Regions from separate parts of the Homo sapiens genome. Here region 1 is linked to region 2. The links come from fine-mapping of genetic effects on gene expression. A gene starts in region 2. The other region holds a variant in brackets. All regions are shown on one strand. Distances are between the middles of the regions.

What was found. PIP is the estimated chance that this variant, and not a neighbour inherited with it, causes the effect.
Region 1: its variant is fine-mapped to the expression of TPD52 in blood mononuclear cells (TOPMed, PIP 0.91).

The regions. Positions count from the first base shown.
Region 1 is chr8:80,091,670-80,100,363 of GRCh38, reverse strand. All of the region lies in intron 1 of TPD52-MRPS28 (TPD52-MRPS28 readthrough), which reads left to right. The region is part of intron 1 of TPD52 (tumor protein D52); the gene reads left to right. LOC105375918 (a long non-coding RNA gene) reads right to left here. Exons shown (of 3, transcript XR_007060978.1): 3 at 8,140-8,658. Among named protein-coding and RNA genes, the nearest start is that of MRPS28, 66 kb to the right of the region's middle. The variant C/A (reference allele first, on the strand shown) is at 4,660.
Region 2 is chr8:80,167,234-80,175,927 of GRCh38, reverse strand. TPD52 (tumor protein D52) reads left to right here and starts at 4,364. Exons shown (of 8, transcript NM_001025253.3): 1 at 4,364-4,503. The coding sequence starts at 4,485. It overlaps TPD52-MRPS28 (TPD52-MRPS28 readthrough), which reads left to right and starts at 4,364. Exons shown (of 7, transcript NM_001387778.1): 1 at 4,364-4,503. The coding sequence starts at 4,485. RefSeq lists a silencer at 4,203-4,532.

The DNA of each region.
Region 1 (8,694 bases), 76 kb after region 2:
TAAAGGGGAGTATGAATAGTGTTTCTGTTTTTGTTTAAGAGTAAGAAATTGCCAGAGAAAATAATTAGGGCTTGGATCAGCTTATTTAAAGCAATCATCTTCACACTAAGATATTACTTTGGTTTATTTCAGAGCTTGTTTCTGTGTGTCACTTTGCCCCCTTCTGCAATTTGTGCCCTTTGATTTTCAGTTCTTAAAATTTGGAGGCGAGATTTCCCCAGAGGATTATCTTTCTAAATCAAATCCTCTTTATCAAGAATCTAAATTTAAAATTGCGTGTTTTGATAAACATGCAGGTTAAATGTTTAGAACACTACTTAGAGAAGATGCTGGGGCCCATGCCTGCCTTCTTAGAAATCCACAGAAAGGAACTAGGGCTGCCAGTATTTGTTGTATCATTGGGCCATAATAGGTTTGTCATCTTGATAGGCTGTTTTCACCAAATATTTGCCAAGAAAAGAGACTTTAAGAATTAAATGTAGGCCTTAAACTTGTTCTACTTCTGCATTCAATAGATATCTGTTTCTGTTTCATTTTAAAAAGATGTTAGACCAGCTGGGCGCGCTGGCTTACGCCTGTAATCCCAGCACTTTGGGAGGCTGAGGTGGGTGGATCACTTGAGGTCAGGTGTTCAAGACCAGCCTGGCCAACATGGTAAAACCCCGTCTCTACTAAAAATACAAAAATTAGCTGGGCGTGGTGTCACGCTCCTGTAGTCCCAGCTACTCAGGAGGCTGAGGCAGGAGAATCACTTGAACCTGGGAGGCGGAGGTTGCAGTGAGCCGAGATCACACCACTGCACTTCAGCCTGGGTGACAGAGCGAGACTTCATCTCAAAAAAAAAAAAAAAAAAAGATGTTAGACCACCATCCAGTTTTGTGAACCTCCCTCACCTGTGGTGGAAGGTTCTTTGCAGATGGTAATACCCTCCCATCATTTGCAGCATCTCTAGCTTGGCCAGATATTCAAAACATTGTGTTTTTTGTTTGTTTGTTTGTTTTTTCATAAATGCCAAGAATTTAGCTACAGTTGGTCAGGCGATTGTCTACTTTGCATTAATAATGGCATTTGATATTATAATAGGGCCGTTATTTCCTTTATTATGAGCTTAGCCTTTCCATTGGAACTGCTGGAATACCTTGGGAGATATTGTGGGTTTGATTCCAGACAGCCATAATTAAAGCAAATATAGCAATAAAGCGACTCACACACATTTTTTGGTTTCCCAGTGTATGTAAGAGTTATGTTTACACTATACTGTAGTCTTTTAAATGCACAATAGGCATTATGTCTAAAAAATTGTGTATATACCCTCGCCCCCAAAACAAAACAAAACAAAACAAAATTGTGCACTTACCTCAGTTTAAAAATACTTTATTGCCAAGAAATGCTAACGGTCAGTGAGTCTTCAGTGAGTCCTAATGTTTTTTGTTGCTGGAGGGTCTTGCCTCAATGAGAATGGCTGCTGACTGATCAGGGAGGTAGCTGCTGAAGGTTGAGCTGGCCGTGGCAATTGATGGGCTCTTCCTTTCACAAAAAAATTTCTCTGTAGCATACAATGCTGTTTGATAGCATTTTACCCACAGTAGAACTTCTTTCAAAACTGGAGTCAAAACTCTCAAACCCTGCTGCTGCTTTATCAACTAAGTTTATGTAATATTCTAAATTCTTTGTTGTTATTTCAACAGTGTTTACGGCATCTTCACCAGGAGTAGATTTCATCTTTGCTCATCTATAAGAAGCAACTCCTTATCCCTTCAAGTGTTATCATGAGATTGCAGCTATTCAATCACATATCCAGGCTCCACTTGTAATTCTGTAATAGTTCCCTTGCTATTTCTGCCACATCTGCAGTTATTTCCTCCACTGAAGTCTTAAGCCTCTCAGAGTAATCCATGAAGGCTGGAATCACCCTCTTCCAAACTCCTGTTATGCTATGTTTTAACCTCCTCCCATGAAACATGAACTTTCTTAATGGCATCTAGAATGGTGAATCCTTTCCAGAAGGTTTTTAATGTACTTTGCCCAGACCCACCCGAGCAATCTCTGGCAGATTGGCCACAGTAGCCTTACAAAATGGATTTCTTAAATAATAAGACTTGAAAATAGGAATTACTCATTGATCCATGGTATGCAGAATGTATGTTGTATTAGCAGGCATGAAAACAACATTCATCTCCTTGTACATCTCCATCGGAGCTCTTGATGACTAGGTGCATTGTAAATGAGCAGTAATATTTGGAAAAGAAATCTTTATCTGAGCAGTAGCTCTCAACAGTGGGCTGAAAATATTCAGTAAACCATATTATAAACAGATGGGCTGTCATCCAGGCGTTGTTATTCCATTTCTAGAGCACAGGCAGAGTAGATTTATTTAGCATCATTCTTAAGGGCTTTAGAACTTTTGAAATGATAATGAGCATTGGATTCAACTTAAGGTCACTGGCTACATTAGCTCCTAAGAAGAGAGTCAGCCTGTCCATTGAAGCATTGAAGCCAGGCATTGACTTCTCCTCTCTAACTTTGCAAGTTCTAGAGGGCATTTTCTTCCAATAAAAGGCTGTTTCATTTACATAGACAATCTGTTGTTTAGTGTAGCTACCGTTTTAGTTTGTTCTTGCATTGCTGTAAAGAGCTACCTGAGACTGGGTAATTTATAAAGAAAAGGTTTAATTGGCTCACAGTTTCACAGACCGTACAGGAAGTATGGCTGGGGAGGCCTCAGGAAACTTAGAATCATGGTGGAAGGCAAAGGGGAAGCAGGGACGTCTTAGATGGGTGGAACAGGAGGAAGAGAGCAAAGTGGGGAGGTGTTACACACTTTTAAACAATCAGATCTCTTGAGAACTCACTATTGTGAGAACAGCAAGGGAGAAATCTGCCCCTATGATCTAATCACCTCCCAGCAGGCCCCTCCTCCAACACTGGGGATTACAATTTGACATGAGATTTGGATGGGAACACAGATCTAAACCATATCAGCTACCTTCATAAATTATCTTAGCTAGATCTTTTGGATAGTTTGCTGCAGCTTCCCTATCAGCACTTGCTGCTTCACCTTATACATTTATGTTATGGAGATGGCTTCTTTCCTTAATCCTCATGAACCAACCTCTGCTAGCTTCAGACTTCTTCTGCAGCTTCCTCACCTTTCTTAGCCTTCATAGAATTGAAGAGAGGTAGGACCTTGCCCTGGATTAGGCTTTGGCTTGAGGGAGTGTTGAGCTGGTTTGAACTTCTATCCAGAGCATTCAAACTTTGTCCATATCAGCAATAAGGCTGTTTTTGCCCTCTTATCATTCATGTGTTCACTGGAGTAGCACTTGTAATTTCGAAGCTTCAAGAACTTTTTCTTTGCATTCAAAACCTGGCAGGTGCAGGCGGTCTGGTTTTTGGCCTACAGAGACTATTGACATGCCTTTCTCGCTAAGCTTAATCATTTCTAGCTTTTGATTTAAAGTGAAAGATGTGCTACTCTTCCTGTCATTTGAACACCTAGAGGCCATCGTAGGGACATTAATTGGCCTAATTTCCATATTGTTGTGTCTCATCAAATAGGGAGGCCTGAGGAGAGGGAGAGAGATGAGAGAATGGCCAGTTTGTGGAACAGTCAGAGCACAAACATTTATCGATTGAGTTTGCCATCCTGTATGGGTGTCGTTTGTGGCATCCCAAAACAATTACAATAGTAACATCAAAGGTCACTGATCACAGATGACCATAACAGATATAATAATAATGAAAAAGTTTGAAATAATGAGAGAATTAGCAAAATGTGATGCAGAGACACAAAGTGAGCATGTGCTGCTGGAATAATGGCACTAATAGATAGACTTTCTGGACACAGTGTTGCCATAAACCTTCAGTTTGTAAAAAACATACTGTGAAGTGCAATGAAGTGGAGTGCAGTAAAACAGGAGTATGCCTGTACATGTAAACATGCTTTCTTTGGTGCTACTTCAGATACTTAGGAAGCCTTGACCATAGTCCAAGCAGATGAGTTTTGGTGCTTGAGTATTTTACCCCAGGCAGACTAGGAGAAGTTTGTGTGTGTGTGTGTGTGTGTGTGTGTTTGTGTGTGTGTGTTTGATAGTCTTTATTTATTTTGAGACAAGTTCTTGCTCTTGTCACTCAGGCTGGAGTACATTGGCACAATCATGGCTCACTGCAGCCTTGACCACCTGGGCTTAAACAATCCTCCCACTTCAACCTCTTCAGCAGGTGGGACTGCAGGTGCACACCACCATGCCCAACTAATTTTTGTATTTTTCATAGAGACGGGTTTTTGTCATGTTACCCAGGCTGGCCTCAAATTCCTGAGCTCAAGCAATATGCCTGCTTTGGCCTCCCAAAGTGTTGGGCTTGGAGGCGTGAGCCACTGTGCCTGGCCGATAGTATGTATGTATGTATGTATGTAGAGATGGAGTCTCACTCTGTTGCCAGGCTGGAGTGCAGTGTCGCGATCTCAGCTCACTGAAACCTCCGCCTCCTGGGTTCAAGCGATTCTCCTGCCTCAGCCTCCTGAGTAGCTGGGACCACGGGCGCATGCCGCTACACTCAGCTAATTTTTGTATTTTTAGTGGAGACAGACGGAGTTTCACCATGTTGGCCAGGATGGTCTCGATCTTTTGACCTCATGATCCTCCCACCTTGGCCTCC[C/A]AAGTGCTTGGATTACAGGCATGAGCCACCGCACCCGGCCTAGTCTTTGTATTTTAGGGCAGTTTTGGGTTTACAGAAAATTGAACAAGTAGTGCAGAGTTCCTTCACGCCCCTAGTTTCCCTTATTATTAACACCTTAAATTCATATGGTACATTTGTTACATTTGGTTAATGCTGAGACATTATTATTAACTAAAGTCTGTAGTTTTTATTAGTGTTGTCCAGTTCAATGGATTTTGACAGATGCATAATATGTAGCCACCATTGCAGTATCATACAGAATACTTTCACTGCCCTAAAAATCACCAGCACCCCAACCTAGTCATTCCTGCTTGCCTCCCCCTCAGCCCTTGGTAACCATTGATCTTTTTACTGTCTCCATAATTTTGTCTTTTCCAGAATGTCACATAGTTGAGATCTTACAGTATTTTGGCTTTTCAGATTGGCTTTTGTCAATAATATGCATTTAAAGTTTCTTTGTGTTTTTTCACAGCTTGCTAGTTCATTTCTTTTTAGTGCTGAATAATATTCCACTGTCTGGATGTACCACAGTTTATTATCCATTCACCTACTGAATGACATCTTGGTGGTTTCTTGTTTTTGGTGATCATGAATAAAGCCACTATGACCATTCACTACAGGGTTTTGTGTGGTCATAAGTTTTCAGCTCATTTGGGTAAATACCTGGGAGTGCAATTGAAGGATCTGTGATATATTCTTGGTCCCAGCATCTCTCCTCCTGCTGACAATTACCCTCCTTATTGTGACAACCTAACCAGGCCTGCCTCTCCCAGGGCTTCCTCTTCTTCACTTAGAGCATTTTCTGAACAAGTCTGGACACAAAGGTCTTGCTTATATTTTCAGGAAAGAGTATTTAAAATACTTCTTAATCATGGTTCCAACTTATTTCAACTCTTATAATTAAGTGATCATTTTTTTTTTAAATTATGGTAGAATATGTGTATATAAGATATAATTTGTGATTTTAACCATTTTTAAGTATACAGTTCAGTTGTATTCATCATATTCACATCATTGTGTAACCATCACCACTATCTGTTTCCAAAACTCTTACCTGGGGATATGATCATTTTAAAAGAGGAATTTGAAGAAATACATCTGAAGCTATATTTGGCAATATGTTTCCATCAGTAACTCCCAAAATCTCAGTGGCTATTGGCAACAATCTTTATGTCTCCCTCATGTTATATATACATACATATATATATATATATATATATATATATATATATATATATATATATATATATATAAAATTTTCTTTTGTCTAGAACTTAGTCACATGGCCACATCTAACTGCAAAGGAGCCTGGGAGGTGTAGTCTAGCTACCTGCGTAAGAATAAGAACAAATTGGCTTGGCGATTTGTTAGCATTCCTGGCCATATTAAGTAAGATTATTAAATCATACACATTGTTAACTTGATCTTTCAGAGATGACATGACAGTAATTGTATGGTTTCATAGATCTGGCTGTGTTTCAGGAGAGCATTTTTCCATCCCATGCTCTCTTTCCATCTAAACGTTAATTATCTTATCCTTTTAACACTGAGAGAGCTTCCTGGAATAAATAAAATTATATGCCTATTTTGATAAATACCTGTTTGATAGCGATGTTTTATAAAACTCTGAGAAAAGTCAACAAGGAGCCTTCACAGTGATTAATACAGCAGTTATTATGGTCAGATGTTAAAAAAAATCTCATGTCTTCAGTCTTGTGCCAAAAGGCAAAGAAAGTTTTGAAGCTTTCCACACACTGATTTGGTTTCAAGATAATGGGCTACTATTGAGTTTACATGTAGCATTGGTCTTCTGCTATTGTCTTTATAAAGGAAAGTATGTGAAATTTGGAATTGGAAATGTCATTTCTTAACCAGAGTAGCAGGTTCAGATGGTGAAGCTATCACTTTTGGCACAGGACTCTTGTTTCTTAATAAAATTTAATGAAAAATTGACAAGATTTGTGCAGTGTATATTTTTTTTAATGGTTGACCCACTGAATGCATCTAATTAGCTTATTACAGTTTAAAAGCAAGTTTAACTGCCTAAATGTATGACTTGGTATTTTGATCTTGTTTGTTAGGTCTCAGCTTGCTGATGATAGAAGTTTGTGGTCCAATATTAATTTTAAATAAGTGCCTACTGTTCTCTAGAAACTCCCATTCCCTTAAGGAAAAGTGTTTCATATGAGCCTCTCATTGCCAGGAATAGCTGTGTAAGCATTGTGGAAGTTTTTTCCACATTAAAATGTAGTCCACCAGTTCATTTATTCCTTTTAGGGTTGTGACAGTCGCTTGTGTTTATGCACCCCTGTAGAGCTGTCTTTAAACTCATTCAGCAAATTGGAAACATTTAGCTTGGATGACACCTCTTTAATCTTCCAGTAATCTCACCATAGAGACCACTGTACTCTCAAATACATTGTTAATACTTTTAGTAAGAATGGCCTGCTTTCATTCTCTTATTACTGAGCCATTATTCTGGACTCTGTTTATTATTATTATTATTATTCCAGAGTCGAAATAATTATCCCGTTGAAAAGACCAAGCATGTGCACACCCTGTTGTGACACAGCCGGTTTTGTCCTATCTGAACTTGCCTGCTTTGTGAACTGTTAGGGTCTCAGAAAAACAAAAAACAAAATCTTTTATTTTTAACATTTAATTTTTTATAGTTTTTATATTTTTTAATTGAGACAAAATATATGTATATAATTTACCATCTGTACCATTTGAAATGTACACTTCCTTGGTAATAAATATATTCTTTATTCCCCCTTCCACCTTTATTCCATCCTTTATTCCTACCCCCACCCCTGCTCAACTCCTCCTCTTCCCAGCCTCTGGCAGTAATTTAAAGTGTGAGTGACAATCTCACCTCTTATAATTATGTGATCTTTTTTTTTTTTTAAATTGTGGTAGAATGTGTATAACACGGAATTTGTGATTTTACTCTCTCTTCACGAGATCTACAGTTTTTAGCTCCACTTGAGTGAGAACGTGTGACAGTTGTATTTCTGTTCCTAGCTTATTTCACTTAACATAATGACCTCTAGTTCCACCCATGTTGCTGCAAATGACAAGATTCATTTTTTTATGGCCAAGTAGTAATAAATTGTGTATATATACCACAATTTTCTTTATTCAACTATTAATGAATATAGGTTGATTCCATATCATTGCTATTGTGAATAGTGCTTCAATAAACGCGCACGTGCAAATATCCTTGACATCTGATTTCTTTACATTTGGGCAAATACCCAGTAGTAGGATTGCTGGATCTATTAATATGTTAATTCTGTTTTTAATTGTTTTGAGAAATCTCCATACTGTTTTTCACAGTGGCTGTGCTGGGAAGATGTGTCAGTGGGTGGGGGGAGGATAAAACGAGGTTAGTTAATGGTTACAAACATACCTTAGAAGGAATAAGTTCTAATGTTCGATAGCAGTGTAGGATGACCATAGTTAACAACAATGTATTGTAGATTTCAAAATAGCTAGAAAAGAGGACTTGGAATAATGCCAACACACAGAAATGACGAATACTCGAGGTGATAGATGCCCCAAACCCCTAATTTGATCATTACACAGTGTAAGCATGTGATAGAGTATCATATTTGTGCCCCCATATACATGTACACATATTTGTATCAATAAGAAATATATACAAAAAGCCAAACCTTTTTAGCTATAAAATCTGTCTCTTATGTTCAAATGTATATAGTTAGAAAGTGCTGGAGTCCTGTAACATCAGTATTCAGAGTTTACTCAAGCTTTCATCCTCAGGCAAACTTAGCAGCTGTTATCTAAAGCCAGACTTGCAGCATCAGAAATCACCTGGAGCTTGTCCAGAAAGCAAGAGTCTTGGGCTCCACCCCAGACTTTCTAACTCAGAATCTGTAGTTCCACAGGCTCCCCTGGTGGCTCTGGTATGTAATAAAGTTATTTGAGAAGCACTGGCTGGAGATCTTTTACCTGAGCCTGTAATCATGGAATCACCCATCAGTATGTGGAGTG
Region 2 (8,694 bases):
ATTCAAGCAGGAAGAGTCTATCTTTCTCCTGGATGATGATATAATTTTCAAAATTGTGGTATCATATGCCTTCATTTGTTTGAACAATCAGAGAGCCAGAACTACCCTTTGACATAGGTAGGGTAGTCAGATTTAGCAAATAGAAATATAAGACAACTTGCTAAGAATTTAAGATAAATAATAAATTTTAGTATAAGTATGTTGCAAATATTGTAGGGTATACTTTTTTGGGTTTTTTCTGAGATGAAGTCTTGCTCTGTCACTCAGGCTGGAGTACGGTGGTGCAATCTTGGCTCACTGCAACCTCCACCTCCCGAGTTCAAGTGATTCACCTGCCTCAGCCTCCTGAGGAGCTGGGATTATAAGCATGTGCCACCACACCCAACTAATTTTTTGTATTTTTAGTAGAGACAGGGGTTGATCACGCTGGCCAGGCTGGTCTCGAACTCCTGACCTCAAGTGATCCACCCACCTTGGCCTCCTAAAGTGCTGGGATTACAGGGGTGAGCCACCACTCCTGGCCAGGGATATACTTACACTAAAAAATTACTTGTCATTTATCTGAAATTCAAATTGAACTGGGTGTCCTTTTATCTTATCTGGCAGCAACCCTAGACCCAGGCTACCTGAAGCCCCTCCACTGGGCGCCCTGGGTCCCATAGAGACTTCCCACTTTTGTTCTCCTTGATGAGCAGTCCCTAGCATCAAATATCTACCCCCTCTTTATCAACGGTGCATCTGATACCTATAACTACAGAATCTCTTGCCTAAACTGGCCAACATCTGTTGTCAAGGCCTTCAGCTTTTCTCCCAGGACAGTCCTTTTGAGTGCAACCCTAGAATGGAGGTATGGCCAAGGCTCGGCTGATGGGAAAGGGTGGATAGAGATGGGATATGTCCTAAGGCATCCACGCACAAGGGAGTGGGCCAGCCTGGTGCAGGACAGAGTCAAAGTGAAAGGACAGAGCCAGAAGAGAAAGCCAGGGGCTCCATTTGTATCCTCGCCCCAGGCCCCACAAATATGAGGGGTAAGACTACAGAAAGCATCCCACTTGCCACACATTCTGTGTGATTTCTGCTGGCTATCGGTCAAGGAAGATACATACAACAAGGGCAGAGTATAGAGTTTTTCCACTTACATAAGTCGGTTTCTATCTATCCTTTTCAATACCTTCATTTGCTTCAATGCATTTGTTTCAGGGGAAGTTTACAATTTCTTGTAAAAATTTCACCAACAAATGAGTATTCTGAAAAAAGAAACTTAAAAAAAGAAACTTAAAAAAAATCCACGTTCCCATCAACAATAACACCACAAAGTAAATCTAGTGTTTCTTTCCTGTACTGAGCCTTTTAAATGTGGTTCAACTCAATGCACCCAGGTGCTCTGTTTAAGTGCTAGCCATTCTCCAGAGATTCCTCAGAGTGCTAAAACATAAGACCTGTTCATTTCAGAAGTAACACAGCATAAATTGTAAGCACAGATTCTGTCAGAAGAAAACAAATGAAGTAGTACGAAGACACAAGAGAAAAGCAGGCTTTTGTAGAAATACATGTAGTAGGAAGATGTAAGAGAAAAGCAGGCTTTTGTGGAAATATCATGTACTAGGATATTTATAGTATGAACAGTGCTCATTTAACCTCAAAGAGAAAATTAAGTTAATCTATCTCTAAGGCTCAGGATTGCATGTATCCACCTACGTGGGTGCATGCCAGAGTGCATTTTCTATATGGCGCATTCTATCAGTTGGGATTGCATTTGGCTCCATCTAACAGAAAGCCAACTACAGTGGCCTTACAAAGTCAGGCATTTATTTTTTTCCAGTAAGAAGCAGGTCTCTGATGCCATGGATTCTTGGGTTCTTTCTGCCGTCCTTGGCTTGTGAATTTCTTCCTCGTGTTTGCAAAATGGCTATTGCCCCTCTAAGCAGGAATGGGAAGGGTGAAGGGCCAAGTAATGCTGCCAAGTCTGTCTTCTTTTTAAATGCTTTCTTGGAGATTCCAATTAGTACAGTTTGCTCACATCTCATTGGACATTAATGAGAGAGACCCACCTCCAGCTGCAAGGCAGTTTGAAGTGCCCAGTGTTTCAGCTGGGCACATTGCCACTCCAAACAATATTTAGGTTATCTTAGGAAGGAAAACAGGAAGGCTGTTTATCAGGTAGGCTATTTGCCATCTCTGCTGCATGTGAACTACTCTATAAGCTCTTCAAAAGATAAGACTTTTTTTCCTTTCAGCATACATAACAAGTTCATCACTATATAGTAAGTTAAACAGATACAAACAATAAATATTTGTAACGGACACTCACGTTCAAGTGCTATTTATTTGTCCACAAATTAGTACATTGAGAGATTGTCTCTCCAGATGTTTATTTCTATACAATAGATCTCAGCATCAGCTAGTCAAAAATTCTTTACCACATACAGAATTTTCTGCTGATGCCAAAATTTACCTTTATGTTACATTAAAAATTTTTTAAAAAATATTGCACCTTTTTGGGCTCAAGCAATCCTCTTGCCTTAGCCTCCTGAGTAGCTGGGTTTACAGGCAAACACCACCATGCCTGGTTTAAAATTACAATATTTATTAATTGCATGGTAGAATTAAAGGATGCAGAGATGACCAAAATAATCTTTGCCCACCTGGAACTTTTTTTTTTTTTTTTGAGATGGAGTCTCACTCTGTTGCCCATGCTGGAGTGCAGTGGCGTGATCTCAGTTCACTGCAACCTCTGCCTCCCGGGTTCATGCCATTCTCCTGCCTCAGCCTGCCGAGTAGCTGGGACTACAGGCGCCCGCCACCACACCTGGCTAATTTTTGGTATTTTTAGTAGAGATGGGGTTTCACCGTGTTAGCCAGGATGGTCTCGATCTCCTGACCTCGTGATCCGCCCGCCTCGGCCTCCCAAAGTGCTGGGATTACAGGCGTGAGCCACCGCGCCCGACAATTTTTGTATTTTTAGTAGACACAAGGTTTCACCATGTTGGCCAGGCTGGTCTCAAACTCCTGACCTCAAGTGATCCACCCGCCTTGGCCTCCCGGAGTGCTGGGATTACAGGCGTGAGCCACCGTGCCAGGCCTGTTTTTTGATTTTTTTAATAGGCCATTTTAAGGACTTTACCACCTGGAGCTTGTAACCTAATAGGACTGTGAAACATACACTGGTAGCATCCTGGCACCAGTGCTGGGGTGAGTGCCACAGGAGAGGAGCCAAGTGCAGTCAGAGTAGAAGGACTCAAATAGAAGAGATCACATCTGGTTGAGTCAAACAGTAAACGTCCCCAGAAGACACTGGAAGATGCAGGCTGGAGAGAGCTACACTTTACATACAGCACGACAGTATAGAGATATTAATAGCATACAGTCACTTCAGGTAACTACAAGTAATTTTAAAACATCTGAATAAGTGCTTCTTTGTTGTCTGTGGAGTGCTACACAATGCTTCGGCCTAAACGTCAAGCAACACAGAAAAGAAGCCCCACTTCATTTGCAGCCTCAGATAGCTTACGAAATTGAGACACCACCTGAAGACCATGACCCATACAATCAAAGTGACTTCATGGAAGACGAGTAACTGCAAAACCCTGTGAAAACAGATTGTTAACGCTACTAATGAAAAGAACTGGATTGTTACGGGAACCTCAAACTGTCCTTTGATCAACGGACATGACGCCTCAACACGCATTTTCCAAAGATCTCTGCTGATAATTCTGACCTTCGGTTAATTTAATTAATTTCATTTGATTTAATTCATTTTAGTGTTGTCCTCAGTCCCGCACTCAAAACAGATTTTTATTATATGAAAATCTTCCTAGTCACCTAAAAAATCCGCATTCTATGGAAAAGACTATATAATTTTTCAAGAGATTCTTTGCAATTTTCACCTATGCTGGTTTATGACCTAGTTAGAGAAGACATCATAGGGCATTATTTAGGTAATAAAATACAGAGAGAAAAGAGCCACTGGCATTTCTAAATAACGTTCCTGTGTTTCCTACTGTAAGTATAGGAAAGTAGGTGTTCGCAGATGCAGAGAAAGGGCATCTCCAAGGCCTCGGAGGAAACTTTTGATTTTATAAATAACTTGATGGTGGAAGGCAAACGCCATCCCGGTTCCCAAGCAGGCTCCACGCAGCCTCCATGGCCGAGTCCATCTCCTCGCCGTCCTCTTCCCTCCTCCCGGCCGACTTCCAGCCGGTGCGGGAGTCGGGGTGCGCCCGGCCCTCCTAGCGCTGCGCCGCCCGCGCCGACGTGGCGGAGCGCACAGGTCGACCGGGTCAGGTGGTTGGGTGACGCCCCAGGAAAGCGCTCCAGGCCGAGGGCGGGCGGCGCCGCCGCGCCCGACGCCTCTGGGGGTGGGGACTTCGCGGGAGTCGCCGGCGGAGGCGAGGAGGAGCTCTGCGCGGCGCGGCGGGCGATCCGAGCCGGGACGGGCTGCAGGCGGGGGTGCTGCAGAGGACACGAGGCGGCGGGCTGGAGACATGGACCGCGGCGAGCAAGGTGAGGGCGCGGACCCAGCGGGCTTGGGCTCGGGCTTGGACTCGGGCTTGGACTCGGGCTTTGGCTCGGCGCGGGGCTGAGCGCGGCCCGGCGGCTCGAGCAGGTGCCGAGCCTCCTGGGCCGGCGCCGCAAGTTGCATCTCCCGGATCCGGATCTGGCATCCTGGGGCCCTGGAAGGAGCGGCTCTGGCGGGGGCAGATGGGACTGCATGTGTGAGTGTGAGTGTGCGTGTGTGGGGGAGAGGGAGAGAAGGTTCTGGGAGGTGGCGAAGGGGCTAGCGTCAGGGGCTGGCGGCCGTGATGCGCTTTGGGTGGAAAGCCGCGTGAAGGGAGCACGGCGCAGCCAGCTCCTGTAAGTGACTGGAACCAGGAACAGAGGACAGTGAGTCGCTCTCGTCCCTCCAGGTGGGAAACCCCTCTCTCCCTCATAAATTAAGACTTTCTGCCTTCTTCTAAGTTCAGGTGGTTAGGATTTTTGGTGGCGTATGACCCATGGGGGGTTTGGGAGGCAGATATTTATCATACTAGAAACCCCCAGATTGTGGAGTGGTGTCTGTGGGTTTGAGGGAAGAGAGCTTTTCGTAGGAAGGGTGAAATCCCACAACACAAAACCTTCAGTCTAATTTACCATAGCGTTGGGTGCACTTGCTTCTGAAAACAGCTCAAGTGAAATTACCCCCAAATAGAGCAATAGTAGGCCATGGTTTTCAGATTTAAATAGTTTCATCCTAGAGATCTCTGCTGATCATAAGCCTGTGACTGTACGCAGATGTGTGTGGCACGCTTTTAAAAAGATACATAAATGCTGAAAAAAGAAAACAAGGTAGGTAATCTTGGGAAGTGAGGATAGGAATCACTCCTGTTTTGAGCCCTGACACAAGTTTTCATGTATTGCTTATTTTCCTCCAGTATGTGCCGTCATGTGTGCATTTTTATGTAAATCAAACCATATTCCAAATATACTATCTTGTACTTTATTTTTTTCAGACTCTGGTGTTTTTTTTGTTTGTTTTTTTGAGTCTCCACCTGTAGCCCAGGCTGGAGTGCAGTGGCGGGATCTCAGCTCACTGCAACCTCTGCCTCCCTGGTTCAAGTGATTCTCCTGCCTCAGCCTCCCAAGTAGCTGGGATTACAGGTGTGCGCCACCACAGCCCGGCTAATTTTGTATTTTTAGTAGAGACAGAGGTTTCTCCATGTTGACCAGGCTGGTCTCCAAGTCCTGACCTCAGGTGATCCACCCGCCTCAGCCTCCCAAAGTGCTGGGATTACAGGTGTGAGCCACTGGGCCAGGCCTGTACTTTACTTTCATTTACTTGTAAGATAGACTCTTTGGAGTCTTTCAGCTCTTTCCTCGCTCCCCTTCAGATTAATTTCAGACTTAACACAAGTGCTTACAAACATTACATACAATATGCTTTATATGTGTTACCTATGTGTATATATATATTATACATTACCTGTATAACGTATATATACACATACATATTATTATCTAAATTTTAAGCTTCTTGAGGTTAGAAACATTTCATCTTTGGTTGTCCTGAGTGGGATAACATGATGACTTGTACATAGTAGACATGCAAATGTTTGAGTTAGAAAGCTTGTCACATGTCTTGTATATATTGTTAGCCGGCTTAGGGGCCACCATGTAAGTCAGCATTATGTCTGTCTGGCTTTCAATGGGGGCGACGCAGGACGGGGGAGACATGACGACAAACGTGCCCATGTGTATTTGTATACTAATCTGTTACACACTGTCGTTTGACATAATGATGTTTTTAGAATAACTATGTTTGGTACTTGTCAAAGTAAATTAAACGGCTGTGTTTTACTTACGTGAGTGGAGTAACTAGTTTTAGTAGTGTTTGTGTTCTAGCTTGGGTGGTAAGAATCAACAGTCATTGGTAGCACTGCAGTATTCCAACTTCTTGTGTAGTTTTTATAGGACTAGTTTAAGTGTCTAATTCTAAGACATATTTTTTTCAAATCTTTATCTTGTAAGATGAGTCTTTTCGTGTCTATAATTTTCCCATATGTTCTTTGGGTGAGGTGGAGGACTCTGCTCCGAATGAAAGAAGAGGCACTGCCTTGGGAGGGTCAGTTCATTTACTCCAAAGCTTTGCTGTGTTAGAACAACGTGGCCAAGGCTGGGTGCGGTGGCTCACACCTGTAATCCCAGCACTTTGGGAAGCTGAGGCAGGCAGATCACTTGAGGCCAGGAGTTTGACCCCTGTCCAACAAGGTGGAACCCTGTCTCTACTAAAAATACAAAAATTAGCTCGGCGCGGTGGCACCGGCCTGTAGTCCCAGCTATTCAGGAGGCTGAGGCAGGAGAATCACTAGAAACTGGGAGGCAGAGGTTGCAGTGAGCTTAGATCAAACCACTGCACTCCAGCCTGGGCGACAGAGCGAGACTCTATCTCAAAAAACAAACAAACACAAAACAAAACCACCTGGCCATTCCTTACTCTTGCTTCCACCTGCCTACCTGCCTTTTCATCTTTATGTTACCAGTGCACACAGTAGGTGCTTAGAAATATGTGTTGACTGCCTAAGATGAGTGAGGAAAGTGTCCAAGAGCAGGCCCCAGCCATAGTAACCTCTGTGTCCCTCCAAATCCATCTCTTGTTTCCCACTTTCTCCTGTTCTGTTTTCCCTGTCTATTCTCAAGAAGCAGAACTTAGCCAGAGAGTTGCTGATAAGGCAGTGCTGGGCTTGGAGGATAACTTTACATGGAAGATCTTAGAACTAGTAGAGTGGATGACTCAGTCTTAAGTGAATCTGGAGCAAGACTCCTGCCTTAAACTGGAAAAGGCACAACCTGGGATTTTAAACCTGGTGTTCACTAGCAAACTGTGTTGGCTGAAATAAGGTTTATCAAACTCTGTGATTGTCTCCTGAATTGTGATTTTGGCAACATACTTAAAACCAAAGCAGAAAATTTTAGGATTTGTTGAACTTTTAATAGTTTTTAATGTACATGGAGTTTTCTTATATTTGTCCCTTAAAAAATCCCTAATGAAACTCTAGTTGTAAAATTAAATGCCCTACCTCTTGTCTTACATGCATTTATCTATTGAAAATCCCTCTTCCAACCTTCTTATGTGAAGTTATCAAAAAATCTGTTCTTGCTACTGATTGTACTTAACAGAGCTGTAAATTTTTAAAATAAACACTGAGTTTTCCTTATGTTTTCAACCACGAGTATTCTAATGCTCTGTAGTATCAGGCCCAGATTCTGTTGTTTTTCTACTTTCTCTCATACCTAGGGCTTGAATACAATACTCTGCTTACAGTGAGAGTTCAGTGAACATCAAATGATTTAAAATACGTTAAATTGCATCATGCCTTTCAAGAGTTTCCAAGCATTAAGCTCAGCGCAGCACATTTACTGTGTGTGGTATTTCCTACTTTGATAGAGCAGTGTTGCTAACTAGAGCATACATTGTGTAGAAAACCCTCCTGACTACCTTTTATGGAGCTGAATAAATATGTATACTTGAGTGCTCTCATGTTAGTCATAACCTTTAGTTTAGCACTGTTATATAGAAGTGACAGTCACGTAGCCCACTACACATTATACTAGTTTGAATTTAAACAAAGCAAAACAACTTTATAATTTTAAGGGGAAGAGGAATGGTTCCTGAGGCCAAAAAACTAGAGAGGAAAGGCTTCAAAAAAAGAATAACACAATAATATGTCACTATCATTTTAACATTGTAATTGTGCCTTAGAAATAAATAACAGAAATGTGGGGTATCATTTATTTAAAAATAAAGCAAATGTAGAGAATAATGGATAATAATTTTGAGGGTCTACTCCCAAGTCTCTGGGTGTGACCCACCCCATCCAGGCTGTTAATTTATTTGGTCAACAGTTTCGTGATTTCCATATGGTGCTGATGTCTTTGTTAGCTCTTCTTCACTTCCTGCATTTATTTTTATGTGGCAGGCTGCCTAGTCCCTAGGGGAATAGCTGAGTGGTAGGAGGGGTTGTGATCTTTTAGCAAGATTTCAAAACAGAATAATGTATGCATGTAATAAAAACAAATACGCTCACTCACAGTGCAAAACCAAAAAGAACACCCAAATCCCTGGAACTTCTGTGCTACTAAGTCTTTTGTTGTAGGCTAAGATTATTTTCCTTTTGGGGTTAATTATTTCTGCCTTAATTATTGACTGTTGTGAAATCT